Homo sapiens: one gene and its partners. The protein of the gene in region 1 interacts with the protein of each later gene in a pairwise test. Each region holds a gene or a part of one and is shown in the gene's direction. Other genes may lie near its edges.

Evidence for each region. The genes of interacting proteins can lie anywhere in the genome.
Region 2: the proteins of ZFC3H1 (region 1) and PIBF1 interact in a two-hybrid assay, tested with the Homo sapiens proteins (one large-scale study listed by BioGRID).
Region 3: the proteins of ZFC3H1 (region 1) and NINL interact in a two-hybrid assay, tested with the Homo sapiens proteins (one large-scale study listed by BioGRID and IntAct).
Region 4: the proteins of ZFC3H1 (region 1) and CADPS interact in a two-hybrid assay, tested with the Homo sapiens proteins (one large-scale study listed by BioGRID).

Annotation. Positions count from the first base shown.
Region 1 is NC_000012.12:71,656,835-71,661,234, reverse strand, and holds part of ZFC3H1 (zinc finger C3H1 domain-containing protein), read left to right. Parts: exon of another isoform or gene 1-864; intron 865-3,933; coding exon 3,934-4,350; intron 4,351-4,400. UniProt on the Homo sapiens protein: Subunit of the trimeric poly(A) tail exosome targeting (PAXT) complex, a complex that directs a subset of long and polyadenylated poly(A) RNAs for exosomal degradation. The RNA exosome is fundamental for the degradation of RNA in eukaryotic nuclei.
Region 2 is NC_000013.11:72,795,633-72,799,132, forward strand, and holds part of PIBF1 (progesterone-induced-blocking factor 1), read left to right. Parts: intron 1-2,274; coding exon 2,275-2,394; intron 2,395-3,500.
Region 3 is NC_000020.11:25,454,365-25,456,531, reverse strand, and holds part of NINL (ninein-like protein), read left to right. Parts: intron 1-745; coding exon 746-859; intron 860-2,167. UniProt on the Homo sapiens protein: Involved in the microtubule organization in interphase cells. Overexpression induces the fragmentation of the Golgi, and causes lysosomes to disperse toward the cell periphery; it also interferes with mitotic spindle assembly.
Region 4 is NC_000003.12:62,400,633-62,403,416, reverse strand, and holds part of CADPS (calcium-dependent secretion activator 1), read left to right. Parts: intron 1-231; coding exon 232-336; intron 337-2,784.

The DNA of each region.
Region 1 (4,400 bases):
TCCGCCTCCCGGGTTCACGCCATTCGGCCTCAGTCTCCCGAGTAGCTGGGACTACAGGCGCCCGCCACCACGCCCGGCTAATTTTTTATATTTTTAGTAGAGACAGGGTTTCATCATGTTAGCCAGGATGGTCTCGATCTCCTGACTCCGTGATCCGCCCACCTCGGCCTCCCAAAGTGCTGGGATTACAGGCATGAGCCACCGTGCCCAGCCAATGTGGATGGTTTTTAAATTTTTTTAATTAAAAAAAATTTTTATTAAATTTATTTAAAAAAATTTTTTTTTGGGGAGACGAAGTCTTGCTATGTTGCCCAGGCTGATCTTGAACTTGTAGCTTCAAGAGATCCTCCTTCCTTAGACTCCCAAAGTGCTGGGATTTATAGGCGAGAGCCACCAGTTTATATGTGTTTTTTAAAGGTACAAAGATGAAACCTGTAGTTTGTATTAGGGAAACAAATGAAAATAAGTAGTTGCAGTTTAGTATAAAAAGTTGAAACTGAAGTATGTATATAAAAAAGTACTATGGGAGCTCAAAGGTTTTTCTTAAAATTTTTATTCTGTATTAGAAAAGGGGGAGGTGAGTGGGCTTTCTGCTTTTGTCCTCTTTCTGCGTGTTTATTCAATACTATTTTGGGCCTCTACCATAGACCTTTATTAATTGGTAAGCTTGCATGTTTTTATTAGTAAACTGGCATATGATGTTGCAAAAAAAAAAAAGTACCAGAAAATATCCAGTCTGCTTGTGTGACTTTGATTTCCGTAGTAACTTGTCATAAATAAGATATCTTGTTGTTTTTCTTTTCACAGATGCTGCACTTAAAAGGATGCTTGTTTTGATGTCCTGCTCATTGTTTTCCCTATGAAGTATCAGTAATCCATCCTAGAGGTGGTGTTCTTTTTAAGAATTTGAGAAGGAAAACGTAGTTCCCAGCTACTTTTATATAATGTGAGCAAACAAAATATTTGTTACAACACTTCATTCAAATTTATTTAATATCAAGGTTGTACTCAGTTTAATTCATATTTCCACTATGTGATTATAATAATACCTTTTTTATTTTACAAATACTGTATAAAGAAAGAATGCAGGTTACTCTGTGGCATATTTCTGTAATTTAGAAGTAAAGTAGCCTGAGTATAGGGTTTATTTCTATTTTTGCCATAACTCCTTTCACTGTAATAACTAAGATATGCTAGTTGCAACTTTAAAGAAATAGAATAAACTAGATTCAATTGCAGTTCTTATTTTCACCCTTAATTTTTCTTAATGATAGACACTTTGTCAGTACATCTTAGCATGTCTCCCTTGAATGACTACTCTTTTAAACTTTCAAATCTGAGGAGAGCTAACATAATTAGGCTAGTGTCTCTCATCAGTAAAAAGTCATTCCATTTTCAGCTGCAGCTGAAAAGGTTGAATAGCACTTCTTTTTGTTTAAACCAAGGTTCAGTTAGAAATTGTATCTTGACAAGCTTAAAATTAAATCTGGTAAGTGTTGGTTTGATCTTAGGCTTCTGTATAGATAGGGATAGATTTTCTTTAGCCTTGAAGGAGATTAGTCAGTTATAGTTGTAACTCAATTGCTTTTCCTTATTTTTCTATTTAGCATTTTTGTTAGTGTATTTAATCATTTCCCTTTCTTTTCTTTTTTTTTTAATTGCAGTTGTGCCTTTAAATGGCTCCAGTGAAAAGTAAGATGTAAATGCAGATAATTACAGAACTTACATACAAAGAGTGTGTAAGAGGGGAAGGGAGAGTGAGAAACTCAGGCTTCACAGAGGTGACACTTGAATTGGGGTTAAGTTGAAGAACAGACAAACTTAGACACAAAGCTATGCAAAAATTGTGATGAACAAGGAAAAAGTAAGTTTGGAAAGGAAAGCACAGGTCAGATTATATTTATTCTCAGGATTTTGGACTTTTTTATTAGGGAAATTTAAACAAGGGGAATGATCTTATATTTGTATTCTAGAAAGATTACTCTGGCAGCAGCAGTATGAAGGATGGCTTGTAGGAGATAAGAGAAATATCTTATCACCAGGGTAAACTCTCCTGTGGTAGGTAAAACTGTGGAGGTGCATTAGAATGCTCAAAATGAGAAAGAGGCTAAGTAGTGCTCCCTGAAGAGCACCATTATTTCACAAGTTAGAGAGAAAAGACTCAATGGAGACTTAAAAGACAAAACACAAATAGGGAAACAAAGGGAGATGCGGAGTTATGGAAGCCAAGAGAGAAGTGGTTTATGGTGTCAGATTCTCAGAGGGGTCAGGTAAAAAAAAATAAAGTTTGAAAACATTGATAGGGAAACTTAGCCACAGCAGTCTCTCTAGATTAATGGGACAGAAACCAGATTCCATTTGGTAAGAAGGGTACAGAGAAACTAGTTTTCTTTCAGGATACTTGGCTTTGAAGAGATCAGAGAACCAGAGATTTACTAGAACAGTTTTGCTGTAGAACTGTTAAGATTTTCAGATGTACTTATTGCTTATTTTTGTTTCTTAGATGATGGTAATTCTCATTTTTAGAACTGGTCATCAGGAGAGTTTAAAAACCTTTTCTGCTGCTTGCCCTGTGAGGTGTTTAAACAGAAGAACCGTATTTGGGGTACTGTATTTTACATCCTAGCCAACTGAAAATAATCTATAGGCTGGGTGCAGTGGCTCACACCTGTAATCCCGGCACTTTGGGAGGTCAAGGTGGGCGGATTACCTGAGGTCAGGATTTCAAGACCAGCCTTGTCAACATGGTGAAACTCCATCTCTACTAAAAATACAAAAATTAGCTGGGCATGGTGGCACGCACCTGTAATCCAAGCTACTCAGGAGGCTGAGACAGGAGAATTGCTTGAGCCTGGGAGACGGAGGTTGCAGTGAGCCGAGATCGCACCACTGCACTCCAGACTGGCTGACAGTGCGAGACTCTGTCTCAAAAAAAAAAAAAAAAAAAAAAAATCTATAAATGATGTATTAAAACCACAGGAGGTACTGTCTTTTCTCTTGCTAATATCTGGCCTGGAAAAATGAGGTATAACAATTCTCGTGTATGAATTGTTTAGAATAAAAATTGTAGTTTGAAATTTTGTAGCTGTTTCTAAGGAAAAAGTTACCTTTTGTGTATCACTGTGTTAGAGAAGAAAGTAAGAACAGTTGCTTCAGATTATTTTCATAACATTTTCCCTTGTCTGTAGGAGAAAAATAGATATATTTTGAGTACTATTTTAAAGTGTTTTTTTTTTTCTTTTTTTTGAGATGAGGTCTCCCTCTGTTGCCCAGGCTGGAGTGCAGTGGTGTGATCTTGGCTCCCTGCAACCTCCGCCTCCTGAGTTCAAGCAATTCTCTTGCCTCAGCGTCTCAAGTACCTGGGACTACAGGCCTGCACCACCACGCCTGGCTAATTTTTTAATTTTTAGTAGAGATGGGGTTTCACTGTGTTGGCCAGGCTGGTCTCAAACTCCTGACCTCAAGTGATCCTCCTGCCTCGGCCTCCCAAAGTGCTGGGATTACAGGCGTGAGCCACCGCGCCTGGCCCCCTGAAGTGTAAACTATCCGCATCTGTGACAAAGCATTCAGTTTCTCCCCTCTTCCTTCAGAAAATAATCTCTAACATACAGCTAATTATGGACTTTCCTGGCACAGAAGGAATGATGCTATAACCTAACTAGGTGGACTGTCTGTGGATACTACTGGTAATTATGACACTAGTGATTTTGTAAGTGGACTGTTTATATGGTACTTACTAAATTCAAATATGGGCACGTAATGAAAGTGGGCATTAGCTGCACATACATTAAATGGAATTTAGTAATTTAAAAATATCGATTCATTTTTCTTGAAAAATTAAAAAGGGAGAAAATTCATCTATAATCTAAGTTTTTTTGTTAAATTTAACTGTGGAAAATTTTTGGAAACTGGTTTCCTTAATATGCTGTTCAGCCAAAAGTTTTGGAAGGTCTCCATCAAGAAAACAAAATTATTCATCAAAAAATGAAAACTGTGTGGAAGAAACTTTTGAAGATTTGCTTTTAAAGTATAAACAAATACAGTTGGAACTAGAATGCATCAATAAGGATGAAAAACTAGCATTGAGTAGCAAAGAAGAGAATGTGCAGGAAGATCCTAAAACATTGAACTTCGAGGACCAAACTAGCACTGATAATGTCAGTATTACAAAGGATTCAAGTAAAGAAGTAGCTCCTGAGGAGAAAACACAAGTCAAAACTTTTCAGGCATTTGAATTAAAACCACTCAGGCAAAAATTGACTTTACCAGGAGATAAGAACCGTTTGAAAAAAGTTAAAGATGGAGCAAAACCACTTTCCCTGAAATCCGACACTACTGATTCTAGTCAAGGTAATGGAATTAAATATTTCAGTTAGTAATGACTCTTCTTCCTCTAAAGT
Region 2 (3,500 bases), on another chromosome or scaffold:
ACTTTTGAAGTACCCAATTGATACATTATTTTATGGCTATGGATGGTGAATGGTGTTGAGATCCAAATTTTAAAGGATCATGACCATTGATCTCCAAAGTCAAGCAATAAATAGGTTTCTGAAGTTAATGACTGCATAGTCCATAGAAATGAATTATCGTAAACTGGTGGTTTCTTACATTCTCAAAATGAAAAATTATAAACAACAGAGTAGTTGTTGCCAGGGGTTGGTTGGGGATAGTGGGAGAGAGGAGTCAGCGTGGTTATAAAGGGATAGGATGAGAAAGAACTTTGTGGTGAGAGATTGGCGCAAGATCTTGATTGCAGTGCTGGTTACACAAATCTAGAACACCTAGGATTAATCTATGGCAGTGGTCTCAAATATTTTGGTGTCAGCATTCATTTACATTCTAAAAGTTATTGAGGACCCCAATGAGTGTTTGTTTATATGGGCTGTATCTATTAATATTTACCATACTAGAATTTTAAACTAACAACTTTTTTAAACACAAGAATAAGCACACAATTCCATTGGCCTTAAGAGTGATAATGTCATATGTCATGTAGCCACTGGCAAACTCCACTGAACAGTCATGAGAGAATGAGAATGAAACGGGGAAAAAAAATCTTAATAATTACTAGGAAAGTCGTTTTGATCTTGTGAATTCCCTGAAAGGATCTCAGAGTGGCGAGTGGGGCAGAGTCCAGGAGTCCCAAAACCATATGTTGAGAACTGCTGCTTTTTAATATGTAGATGTCATTTTACCCTGAGAGGCTTGAATTTTTTAATCCCTAAAAAGGGTTAATAGTAACGGTGCGTTTCTATTGGGGATAATTGTAAAGACTATAACTATGTATGTAAAATGCTTGTGAGCATAGTGCTTAGAAGATAGTAAACACATAAAAATGTTGTCTATTGTTTTTGCTGGAGTGGTGGTTGCTATTCTTGGTTCTCATTGGGAAAAGATTTGCAGATTAGTGATGTCTGATAAAATGAAGTTACTTTTTTGTTCAGCTGTTTTTTTTTTTTTTTTAAAAGGCTCAAATACAGCTTTTCTGTCCAAAGTATACTGTCCAAAACAAATTAAATATCTCAAATTCTGTTTTTGAGGCTTCATTTACAGTAGATATAAAGTATCACACTGGTGGCAGTTACACATATTTTTGCTGTTTGTTTTCTTAATATTCCTTCTTACATCTTTTGTTTTCACAGACAATATTATCCTTAACTAATTAATTATATGCAGATTCTTTTTGTTGAGGGCTAGTATTAAGATTTGCCTCTTACCAAATAATGGTATTCTTGTAATACCGTCATATGTTAAGGAGTTTCAGATTGCATGCCTATATGATAGCCCCTAATTACTCTCTCCTAATTTGCTGTGATGATTTCTTAGTTTTATGGGACCTTGTCAGATGGAACACTTTACTGAGCTAGGGTAGGAAAATTTCTCTGAGACAAGTATGAGTGGAAAGAGAGACCTGAACTAAATGGAAGTAATGATGTGAAAGATACCTCTTGATTCATTCTGATTAGACTTCCACTGTAGGGACAGCAGTAAATAAAGCTTTGCCAAGAGCCTGGGATGAAAATAAAGAATACACTTTACCTCTTCATCAAGTATTTATTGAGTGCTTATCATATATTTAGGCATTGGAAATACAGCGGTGTATAAACCAGACAAAAATCCCTGCCCTCAGGTTGTGAAAGTGGAGCAACACAGGCAATAACTTAAAAATTAAATATGTAGAATATCTGTTTGTCAAAGGTGCTACAGAGAAAAGAGCAGGGGTGAAAAATAGGGAGTGCTACTTAAAATTAGGTAAAGAAATCAGGGAGGGCTTTACTAACAAGGTAATATTTGGTCAGAGACCTATAGGGAGACAAGGCATGAGCCATGCATTTATATGGGGGAAGAACTTCTCTAGCAGAAGAAACAGCAAGAGCAAGACTCCTGAACATTTGTGATATGTTCCAGAAGTTTACAAGCACCTAGTGTGGAGTGAGCAGTAGTAGATGAGTAGTAATGGAGTGTCAGTAGAAGGGAGGAAATACTGTCAAAGGTAAGAGGTTATAAATCATCTGGCCCTTGAGGGAAGTTAATTGAACATTAAGGCTTGATAGAAAGTATTAGTGGCTAGGGTCCATTAATGACTGTCTTGTTGTAGTTTTGTAAATATTTATCTTTATTACTGATAAGTGAGAGCACTACAAATTACAAATTTTAATTGTAATTTGGATTTAAGACTGCTTATTAATTTAATTTTTTTCAAGGTTCGCTTCTATGAGCTAGTGAATCCATTAAGAAAGGAAATCTGTGAACTACAAGTGAAAAAGAATATCCTAGCAGAAGAATTAAGTACAAACAAAAACCAACTGAAGCAGCTGACAGAGGTTTGTATGGTTTTGATTGCTGGTGGGAAGAAGCTTCGGCTTTTTCTGTAGAGTCCCTCAGGATTTGTGATAAGGCATATAAAAGTCAGTGATTGAAAAATGGGACTATGGGATGGTGACTGCTACAGTTCAATAATGGGAAGGAGGTTAAATTGGAAGTAGTCATCTTAAACATTGACAAGACAAGTCTGTGTTATTGACGTATCCTATAGTTGAGCTTTTATTGTTGCAAGTCAATTTTATAATCAACTGCTTTTGAAATCCTAATATGGGCTATATCTGAAAATTGCTGTGTATCCTTAGATGACGCATATGCATGTATTTATTTAGTAATTTGTCTCTATTTTTAACATCACTTTGTCAGGAAATTTAAGCAAGAAACAAGAAATGTAGGCCAAGCTATGCAGGGGATCTCTTGCAGGTGCCATAAGAAAGAAGAAAAGGAGAATATTTTTACTTTGAACTAAGTTGACTCGTAGGTTCTGGTTTGCCTAAGACTGTTGCCATTATTCCTGTGAATAAATATTAATAGCACCCCTTTATTTTCAAAATTATCTCAGCCTAGACGATGAATATAGTAATCATAAATCAACATTTATATAGAAGGGTGGACTAATCATTAACTTGGTTGTATTATTGACCAGATATCCTAGAATACTATCTTGTAGTTATAGTCTACTAACAAAAAAATAATGGTAGATTGATTCATTCTACCATGTAACAGTTGGAAATGGGTGGCTGTTTTTCTTCAAATATTTCGTTATTCTAAAAGGAAAACACTTCTAGTTTACAAATGGGGGCTGCTGCAGTTCTTCATTACAAGTTAGCCTTGTTCGTGATATGAGATGGAGCTACTGTCCATTTATTACTTACGTGGCTTCTTTGTGAAGTGCAGTTAACTCTCATAATATTTATTCTGAGCATGTGTACTGATACTAGCATTAACCCCAGTGGTGTGCATGGTGCTGTGCTAGGTGCTGGCAGTGAACCCAAGAGAGGCAATGCCTGCCCTTCTAGAGTTTACTTTCTAGCAGGTTAGGATTAGAACGTTAGGTGATATTTTGACACTCTCATTTACTGTGTGACCATGACCAGGTCATTTAATG
Region 3 (2,167 bases), on another chromosome or scaffold:
CTGTCACCCAGACTGGAGTGCAATGGCACAATCTTGGCTCACTGCAACCTCCGCCTCCTGGGTTCAAGCAATTATTCTGCCTCGGCCTCCCGAGTAGCTGGGACTACAGGCGCCCGCTACCATGCCCGGCTGATTTTTTGTATTTTAGTAGAGATAGGGTTTCACTGTGCTGCCCAGGCTGGTCTCGAACTCCTGAGCTCAGGTAATCCGCCCGCCTCAGACTCCCAAAGTGCTAGGATTACAGTTGTGAACCACTGCACCTGGCTTTTTTTTTTTTTTTTTTTTTTTTTGAGATGGAGTCTCACTCTGTCACCAGGCTGGAATGCAGTGGTGCTATTTCGGCTCACAGCAACCTCTGCCTCTTGGGTTCAAGTGATTCTCCTGCCTCAGCCTCCCAAGTAGCTGGGACTACAGGTGCACGCTACCACGCCCAGCTAATTTTTCTTTTTTTTTTGAGACTGAGTCTTGCTCTGTCACCTAGGCTGGAGTGCCACTGCAACCTCCACCTCCTGGGTTCAAGTGATTCTCCTGCCTCAGCCTCCCAAGTAGCTGGGATTACAGGTACGCACCACCACACACGGCTAATTTTTCTATTTTTTTTAGTAGAGATGGGGTTTCACCATGTTGGCCAGGTTGGTCTCAAACTCCTGACCTCAGGTGATCCGCCCGCCTCGGCCTCCCAAAGTGCTGGGATTAGAGGCGTGAGCCACCATGCCCGGCCACCTGCAACCTTCTTTTATGGCAGGAAGAACATGAGAAACAGCTGAAAGCCACAGAAGAGCGGGTGGAAGAGGCGGAGATGATTCTGAAGAATATGGAAATGCTCCTCCAAGAGAAAGTGGATAAGCTGAAGGAGCAGGTGAGTGATGGGCGCTGCTGCTTTCGTGTTCACGTCCTCTTCTGAACGCTCTCCACTTTTATGGGTGTGCAGGTAGCTAATACAGGAAAAGGCTGTCTTGTCACAGAATTCCAGGGAACTAAATGTATACCCTACACTGCAGGTGCACATTCATTTATTTTCCTCCGGGAATGGTTTTAAGATCTGTCCTTTGGGTGTTCACATACACTCAGAAAGGACTCATCCGTTCATTTGTTCATGTAGTCATTCAGGCATCCCCAAGCACCTCTGGTCTAAGCTTTCCCAGGTAGACCTGAGATGAGCAGGGCTGAGCCTGCATCCCAGACCTGACCCTCTGGAGACAGAGGCAGATGCTTCCATAGAGCATACATGACCTCGGGCCATGATGAGTGCTCTGAAAATGAGAGAATAGAGGTGGAAGGAGCCGGTGGGGTGGTCAAGGCCACTTTGAAGAGCCAGCATTTGGTCAGATGCCCAGTGACCAGCACAGGAACGTCCAGCTGTGTCCCCAGCAGAGGCCAGGTGGCATTTGGAAGGCTCAGTGGGTGGGAGATGCACACATCTCCTCGTGTCTGGGGGACTCCGAGGAGGGTGCATTCCAGGCAGCGGACAGCCATGGAGGAGGCCGCCATGGCTGGTGTGAACTGGTAGGGCTCAGGTAGGCAGTGCCTGTCGTGTGTATCCTAGAAGCCAAGGTCAGGGGTTTGGGTTTTATCATAATGGCAGTTAGAAGGCATAGGGAGATTTTAAGTAAAAGCATGACAGGATCTATCTTTTAAAAGAAACCATACTAGGGAAAAAGTCACTTGGGCTACTGTAAGGAGCAAAGACCAAAAATGAGGTGCCATAACTCACCTGGTCTGTAGATGTTCGAAGTCCAACTCAGCAGGTGGGAACTGACGTGCAGCAGTGCTGTGCCCTGAGGGCTGATGGCACAGGGTGTGGGTGGACCCCACGGGTGTGGGGTGCACACACAGAAGAGGCCCGGCCACGGACCACATTCAGTGTTAGGATTAAGAGAAATATGAAAACCTGGAGAAGTATTTTTGCTCCATCGTGATCCAGTATGGTTTGGTCTACATGAGGGATCCTGAGCTCAGCCCAAGCTAGACAAGGCATTTGTGGAAGGTTCCCAGTCCCTCCCTGGGGCCACCCGTCCTTGCCCAGCTTCCTCCCCTACTGGTGCCCCCGGTCCCTCTCACCCTTTCTCCCTGGCACACACCCACAGTCCTCAGTTGCCCGTCTCGCCAGCAACACCTGACTTCTGGTTCAATCCTGTGGCTCCTGCATACCTGCCCTGGCCCTGAG
Region 4 (2,784 bases), on another chromosome or scaffold:
TTCGAAGTCCTAACTGTCTTAGATTGTCTGTCTTGGATTGGTCCAGTACCCAGTACCTTGCAATTTTGTATAAACTAACTAACGTTCATTAAACTCTATGCTCTCAAATTCTCTTTAACCATTTTGTTTCCTCCTGGAACAGAGTGGGGTACTCAAACATTGCCTGCTCTCTCTCTGCCCTATAAATGCTCCATGATGTGTTGGCTGGAGAACTTTTGTCTCTTTTTTCAGCAATGGTACAACAGCTCCATGAACGTGATCTGCACCTGGTTGACGGACCGGATGGACTTACAGCTTCATATTTATCAGTTGAAAACACTAATTAGGATGGTAAAGGTAAAAGAAAAGATTATTATTCTTCTTTGCAAATAGCTTACTGAAATATATTTCACTGGCAAGCTGCAAAGCTTGCTTAACACAAAGAATATTAGTTTACATATAAAATAGTATCTCATACAAGAAAAACCTATGCAATTGTTTTGTGATGCATGATAAATGTGTTACTCAGACAGCAAAGGGAAATTTAATACAAATGAATTTGATATCTTTTTCCAGAGAGGAAAAATACTTGGTTTTGCCATACAAAAATACGGCAGAGGCCATCGTGTCCTTTGCATTAGACTTTCAAAAACTGGCTTTTGGTGTCATTATGTTAATCACATCCATTACCAATTTCATTTATAGTTTAATTAAATAAAATGTTGCCGCTATTAATTTAATAGAAATATTTACCCCCAGCTATTTCTAAATATGTCCTGTGATCATTATCAGAATGCAAATCAATATTGTTCTCATAGTTAATTGAAGTAGTTCGTCTTACAATGCGTGTATACAATCAAATGTAAAGGATCACAAAGGTGAGATAACATACCCTGAAAGTAGCTTTTTCCCTTGTTCTTGTGTGTGCACCTTGGACTAATGATAATTATTTCAGCGTGAAATCTCAGTGGTTTACATGAAATAATAAGATCACAGAAGGGGGTAAATACATTTTTGATCATTTCAGTTTCTATTTGATGCTTCACCATAGAGGGTTTTAAAACATTTGTATGCAAAAATCTCATTCAAAGCACAAAGTCCTTTAAAATATTTTAACAATAAATGTAGCTGAATGTCTATTTCTTAACAGTTTGCCAAAAGTCCCTGCAACACCCACTCCTGGGCACCCCCCCCCCCCGCCCCCACCCCGTTTCTTAGTCTCTTTTGGATCAGCACCATTTCACTTTACCCCAGTGCTGACTTACAACCAACTGCTGTTCCGTTGTGTGTAATTAAGGAGAATTATTATTATCTGCATTTGATCTCACAAAGCATCCACCCGGGAAAGGTTATAGACAGCAGTGTATTACAGCTCTTAAAAAACGAATGTATACACTTAGACTATGGACCCAGCCTCATTTTCACATTTTTTTACTTCAGTTCCTTAGGACCAGCTCAATCGTCAAGTGGTCGCCTGACCACTTGAATTCCATTTTCTGTGCATAAATGCACTTTGGGGAAATTGTCTGTTTGACCCTTATTGGGTAGACATGAAAAGAAGATATAATTGTCATACTTAAAAATTATCTTCCCATTATTTCTATTTCCAGATTGGTGTTGGAAATTAACAATATTTTATGAAGGAAAAATATAAGTCAGAGGGGAGGTTTAATCTTAGCCTTTTGCCAAAACAAAAAAAAAAAAATGTGGTATGAGCCACAGAGAAGGGATATAGAAAAGTCACTGCCAAAGGAACCCCTTCACTTTAGCAAAAAGTGGGTTCAGCTTAACTAATGCCACAACTCAGAGCTATGAAGCAGAATTCACAAACTTTAAACCAAGAACATCACCCAGAGGCCTCCTCCTCCAGGGCAAATTTCCAAGGATAATTGGCTTTCTTTCTTGCATCAACAGCCACTTCATTTATTCACCCATTCATTTATTATTCAGCAAGCATTTATTTATTCATTCAACATTGGATAAATATTAGGTGGGCCTCTACTTGTATATTACCAGATGGAGGATTCAGAAATGACTAGATGTGGTCTCTGCACTTAGGCATTGAGAGTCTAGTTGGTATACACGTTGCTATGGAATTTGAATAAAAGGGAGAATGCTCAAATGCTTTTTACCTTTATTTTCCCCCATCATATTCTGGCAACAATTATGTTATTCTAAGTGGCAACAGAACAAATGATTGAAAAGTACAAAAATTTAAGTTAATTGTGTAGATATCTGGCCCACACCATGCCTAACATTTATTCAGTCTCTTACCCGTCCCCATCAAAGTGAAAACACAGTTCAGGTAGCTGTCTAGCTTCCTCCTCTCAGCAAGACTTGCAGGTTGATGCATGATTGAGGATAACCTTATAATTTAATGTCAAACCAGATTACTTTTTTGTTATTGGACTTCAGTAAGCTGAACTGGGTTCACTCATTAACTCTGTAGTCATTACAACATGTGACCTTCAAGAGGGGTTGACATTGTGATTGTTGCTATCATGACCGCATTAGATGGACTATTAAAAATAGAAATAATGGGCCGGGCACGATGGCTCACGCCCGTAATCTCAGCACTTTGGGAGGCCAAGGCGGGTGGATCACAAGGTCAGGAGATCAAGACCATCCTGGCCAACATGGTGAAACCCTGTCTCTACTAAAAATACAAAAATTAGTTGGGCATGGTGGCGGGCACCTATAATCCCAGCTACTCAGGAGGCTGAGGCAGGAGAATCGTTTGAACCCAGGGGGTGGAGGTTGCAGTGAGCCGAGATCGATCTGCTGCACTCCAGCCTGGGTGACAGA